Regions from separate parts of the Homo sapiens genome. Here region 2 is linked to region 1. A link means that fine-mapping ties the variant in region 1 to the expression of a gene that starts in the linked region. Tissue or cell type: cerebral cortex. Region 1 holds a variant in brackets; the other region holds the start of a gene. All regions are shown on one strand. Distances are from middle to middle.

Evidence for each region. PIP is the estimated chance that this variant, and not a neighbour inherited with it, causes the effect.
Region 2: it holds the start of UROS, and the variant in region 1 is fine-mapped to the expression of UROS in cerebral cortex (GTEx, PIP 0.97).

What each region holds. Positions count from the first base shown.
Region 1 is chr10:126,181,100-126,183,783 of GRCh38, forward strand. The region is part of intron 3 of ADAM12 (ADAM metallopeptidase domain 12); the gene reads right to left. Among named protein-coding and RNA genes, the nearest start is that of ADAM12, 210 kb to the right of the region's middle. The variant C/CA (reference allele first, on the strand shown) is at 1,315.
Region 2 is chr10:125,821,823-125,824,506 of GRCh38, forward strand. It overlaps UROS (uroporphyrinogen III synthase), which reads right to left and starts at 1,436. Exons shown (of 10, transcript NM_000375.3): 1 at 1,207-1,436. BCCIP (BRCA2 and CDKN1A interacting protein) reads left to right here and starts at 1,724. Exons shown (of 7, transcript NM_078468.3): 1 at 1,724-1,900. The coding sequence starts at 1,736. RefSeq lists silencers at 1,083-1,512, 2,269-2,488 and enhancers at 1,364-2,049, 1,593-1,792.

The DNA of each region.
Region 1 (2,684 bases):
CTCCCTCTGTTGCCCAGGCTGGAGTGCAGTGGCATGATCTTGGCTCACTGCAACCTCCGCCTCCTGGGTTCAAGCAATTCTCTTGCCTCAGCCTCCTGAGTAGCTAGGACTACAGGCACATACCACCATGCTCAGCTAATTTTTGTATTTTTAGTAGAGATGGGGTTTCACCATGTTGGCGAGGCTGACCTCCAACTCCTGACCTCAAGTGATCCAACACCCTCGGTTTTCCAAAGTGCTGGGATTATAGGCATGAGCCATCACGCCAAGCCTACACAGGGATTTTGATCATAGCTTTATGAATGCCTCAAAATAATTACAATAATTATATTGATAGTTTTATAGTTATACTGATATATATTACATGATACCATGTCCTACTCAATTTGTGATTATTACTATTTCATAAGTATAGTATCTGTGTACATATCTGTCCACCCACCCAGCCATCCACACATTCAGCCACCCAGCCACTCAAGAAACATTAATTACGAGCCTGCTAAGTGTCAGGTGCCGTCTTGGGCAGTGAAAGACAAATGAAACAAGCGAATGAAAGAACAACCTTCAGAGGAAGGAGAGAGGCAGAAGAGAGGCATACTGTGGGATTCCACCTCCATTTCTCAGTTGGTTAAAATTGCAGCTTTGTGTTTGCCTTCACTGGCATTACACCACTTCTTCTGCAAGCAAGCCAGCTGTTGACAGTCAGAAGATCAGGCCTTTGGCAGCAGTCCTTCTGGACCGACCAATAGCCGCAGGAGCCCCTCCTGGTGTGGAGGGAGCTGAGATCCACCGGGAGATTACATGATTTCTGGGGTCTTTAATTGCATGGCCCGGTCAGCATCCATTAGTCTGCTGCCTACACAATGCCTTTGTTTCTCAGATGGTAGCAGAGGACATCCTTCAGAAGACACGTAAAGCACATGATTAGGGAAACAAATAAAAGATGGAAGTTCACCCTCACACAGCACCGGCAACGCAGTGCATCCCAGGAAGTAACCACTGACGTATGGCACGCCAGGTAACAGCGGCCCTGCTGCCAGGTGCCCCTCTGCCTGGTGGCTGGTGAGTTTCCTTTGAGATGCCTTGTCAGAATTATATACCAAAAACATGAACATGTAGAGGGAGTATGTGGTACAATCAGAAGTCTGATGTTGAGGGCCAGATATCTATCACAGCACAGCATACTTATTTGCAGTATCTAAGACATAAAGACATCTAATAAAAAACATTAAGGGACTAAAAACACATTTATAGTCTCGTACAAATGGAATTTCCTTAACCAGGGACCAAGATTTGTCCAGCAAAACAAACAAA[C/CA]AAAAAAAACACTCACTATAAATTTTTCTTCTGGATGTGTTCACTTATTTAATGAAAGTTTATTAAATTCTTGATCTTTTCAAAGTATCCTTTGTAGACAAAAGACGTAAAAGCATGAAAATAGCAGATTCTGCCTTGGGGAAGTTTAAAATGTCACTGGAGGTATAGGACTTATCAGGCACATGAGAGAGAGAGAGAGCCTGTGCCAGGATGTGAAGAGCCCAGATTTCATGTAAGTTGCTGCGGGGATTCAAAGCAAATATTGATCATGGTGGGGCAGAAATAAACATCCGTGAGGTCAGTGGAGGTGGGCTTGAGGAGTGTAGCAGAAGGTTTTGCGTCCCTAGCGTCTCTTCTACTTGGATGACCCCCAGTCTAATTCTCGGGACTATGGGGATTTACATAAACATAAGAAGAGTTAATTTTCCCGCCTCCTGGCACGCAAGCGTGCAATCCACTAGAACAGGGGTCCCAAACCCCCGGGCCACAGACCGATACCTGTCCGTGGCCTGTTAGGAACTGGGCCACACAGCAGGAGGTGAGTGAAGCTTCATCTGTATTTACAGCCACTCCTCATTGCTTACATTACTGCCAGAGCTCCAACTCCTGTCAGATCAGAAGAAGCACTAGATTCTCACAAGAGTTTGAACCCTAATGTGAACTGTGCATGCGAGGGATCTAGGTTGCATGTTCCTTACGAGAACCTAAGGCCTGGTGATCTGTCACTGCTTCCCATCACCCCCAGATGGGACCGTCTAGTTACAGGAAAACAAGCTCAGGGCTCCCGCTGATTCTACATATTATGAGTTGTATAATTATTTCATTATATATTACAACGTAATAATAATAGAAATAAAGTGCATAATAAATGTAATAAGCTTGAATCATCCCCAAACCACCCCCTCAACCCCATTCCATGGAAAAAGTGTCTTCCACAAAACTGGTCCCTGGTGCTAGAAGGGTTGGGGACCACTGCACTAGAACACCACCCGTGTGCGAGCAGGGCGTCACATTGTAAAACACCTCGCCCCAGTCCCAGGATGGCTACTGCAGACAGGTGAGCTTCACCTCCTGCCATGCCATTTACACACCTTCCTGGAAAAGCAGAACAGGTGAAACAGCCATCTGGGGCAAGTGGTGAAGTGCAGGCTTTTTGAAGGCATAGCTGATAAGTCAACATGTCGTCCGCACTTCTAAAATAAAATTCTTAATTCATATAAATGTTTTTTGGATGTCTCCTCTGTTCCCACACATTATCCTAAGTGCTTTGAGTATGACAGTAATAAAGAGTCATGGCTTCATCTTTCCCCAAAGTACAACCACAGGAGCCTGTGACATCTTTTCTCCTAGAGCCACAAAATGGGCACCCA
Region 2 (2,684 bases), 360 kb before region 1:
GAGGCCATTTCAAGCTGCCCCATCAGATGTGGAGCGCTGATGTGTAAGTATTACTTTAATATCCATGACATGGCTGGGTAGACAAGAGACTCCCAGGAAAGACCGAAATCACAGAACACGATTATGGGCAATCTGGGCTCCTGGGGACCTTTAGGGCACGCCATCTCGTACTGATGAAGGATCACTGATTTATCAGATGTTACCCTGCTTAAACAGAAGCAGCCTATTAGCGCAGCTCACACCATTCCTAGAATCAAACATATCCAACCCACCCCCCTCATTTTACAGAGAAAAATCAATTGAGAACCGCAGATCTTATTCCTAGAAAGCTGATGAACCCTGTTTCTCTCGCAATGGGAAGACCTGGCTGCCCCAGGCTGCATCCCCACCTGCCACAGGGGCTGGCGCTCGCTCTGCAGTTGGCCGCAGTCCCCTCCACTCTTCTCTCCAAATAGGCTCGGGTCTTTAACCTAGACTACCCCACTGGCCCCGAAGCATTTTTTTTTTTTTTTAGATAGGGTCTACCTCTGTCGCCCAGGCTGGAGTGTGGAGTGCGGTGGCGCGATCTCGGCTCACTGCAACCTCCGTCTCCTGGGGGCATGCGATTCTCCTGCCTTAGCCTCCTGAGTAGCTGGGACTACAGGCGCGCACCACCACACCTGGCTAGTTTTTGTATTTTTAGTAGAGATGGGATTTCGCCATGTTGGGCAGGCTGGTCTCGAACTCCTGACCTCAAGTGATCCACCCATCTCGGCCTCCCAAAGTGCTGGGATTACAGGTGTCCGCCACCACGCCCGGCTAATTTTTGTACTTTTAGCAGAGATGAGGTTTTGCCATGTTGGCCAGGCTGGTCTCGAACTCCTGACCTCTGGTGATCCACCCGCTTTGACCTCCCTAAGTGCTGGGATTACAGGCGCGAGACACCGGGCCCGGCCCCCCGCCGAAGCATTTTTAACTGCGGTGCCGGCTTTAAAAAAACTTTTAGGTCAAGAAATGCGCTCCAGAAGCTCGGCGAGGGTAGGCTGGGCAGGCGCCTTCCGTCACCGGCGCAGCGGTAGCGGCAGCGGACATCCCCGCCTGGGCAGGCCCAGGTCCGCGGAAGCCTCGGGGCCCTGGCCCCACTGTGTCACACACCGCCCGGGGCCGGGCCCCTGCACGCCCGCGGGCTTCGGCGTCCGTACCGGTACAGCGGGCGGCGACACCTACCTCGCGGGACCGTGCCCAGCACCCGGCCTGGCACACAGCGGGCACCCGGTCGGGGGGCGGTGTCGCGCAGTCCCAGCGAAAAGGCTGCAGGAGCAATGACAACAGGGGCGGAAGCCCCCTCCCCACGCAGCCCGAGGGGCCGCGGCGGCCACCCGCGCCGGGCCCCAGGACCCCGCACCTCAGACTGGGGTCGCGTGGGTGGCTGCGCGCAGCTAGGCGCTCGCGCATGCGCACCGCCATCCAGGCCACGGAATGAGGCCAGAGGTTAGATGGGTTGAACCACTACGGGAAGGGGAGGGGAAGCTTTGGGAGGAGTGATGGAGGGTGGAAAGCGGAAGAAAAAAGCAAGATGGGACCGCAAGCTGGACGTGACTGTAAGGGGTCATGGCTGCGGAATCCAGCAGGGGCATTGGGGTTGACGTGCACTCAGCGCCGAGCTTCTTCGTAGTTCCTCACCCCCTTGGCTACTATGGGCTGGTCCGGAAGGTCAGGCAAGGGGAAGCTGCGCAGGCGCAGTGTGAGCGGCAACATGGCGTCCAGGTCTAAGCGGCGTGCCGTGGAAAGTGGGGTTCCGCAGCCGCCGGATCCCCCAGTCCAGCGCGACGAGGAAGAGGAAAAAGAAGTCGAAAATGAGGATGAAGACGATGATGACAGTGACAAGGAAAAGGATGAAGAGGACGAGGTCATTGACGAGGTGAGAAGGACACGCTCCCCTAGTTGGTTTATACCTGAGAAAAACTTTTTGGCAAGCCCAGGCTGTGTAAAAATAGTGTAGGGTCTTCCCTGACCCTGAGGGTCTGTGAGGAGAAACTGGAGATAAGTTCTTTCTCAGGTTTCTCCTCGGTCTTTAACACACTGCAGCCATAGTAGTTATTTTTTAAAGGTCTAGTCCGGTCCAGTTAATCTCCCAACCCGCGTCCTCCCCGAAAAAGCCCGCCACAACAGGTGTGTTCTTCTCGTCCTCTTTAGTTCTCAGGCTGAAGCCTCAGATCCTGAATCGGCCACCCCGGGCTCGCAGAGGGGGCCCTCTCCCCTCGGGGCAGCAGCTGTCCTCCTCTTCACTCTGCGGGCGGCACTCACTTGGGCCCTCAGTTTCTTGAAGGCTCTTGCCGCGTTCTACCGTAGAAGCCTTTTCAAATGCTCTTCTTTATCCTGCAGTTTTCCCTTCCTTCTTCAGATCTCAGCTAGGCTGTATTTTCTGGCTCCTGGGGCAGCTGACCAAGTCGTGGGTAAATCTTTGGTTTCATAGTCTCATAGAACTGTGTTCCTTTCTTCAGACTAGGTCCTACCGTAGTGCCTGGCAATATAGGTACTTATTATTTGTTTAGTAAACAATTAGGACTGAATGATCCTTCAGCCTACTGAATGTTTAAATAGATACCTCAGCCTTAACTTGTCCAAAGCAGAATTTGTATAATAATTCATGCCCCTCTCTTAATCGTCACCATTTCTATAAATGGCCCCTAAAGTCACCAGCT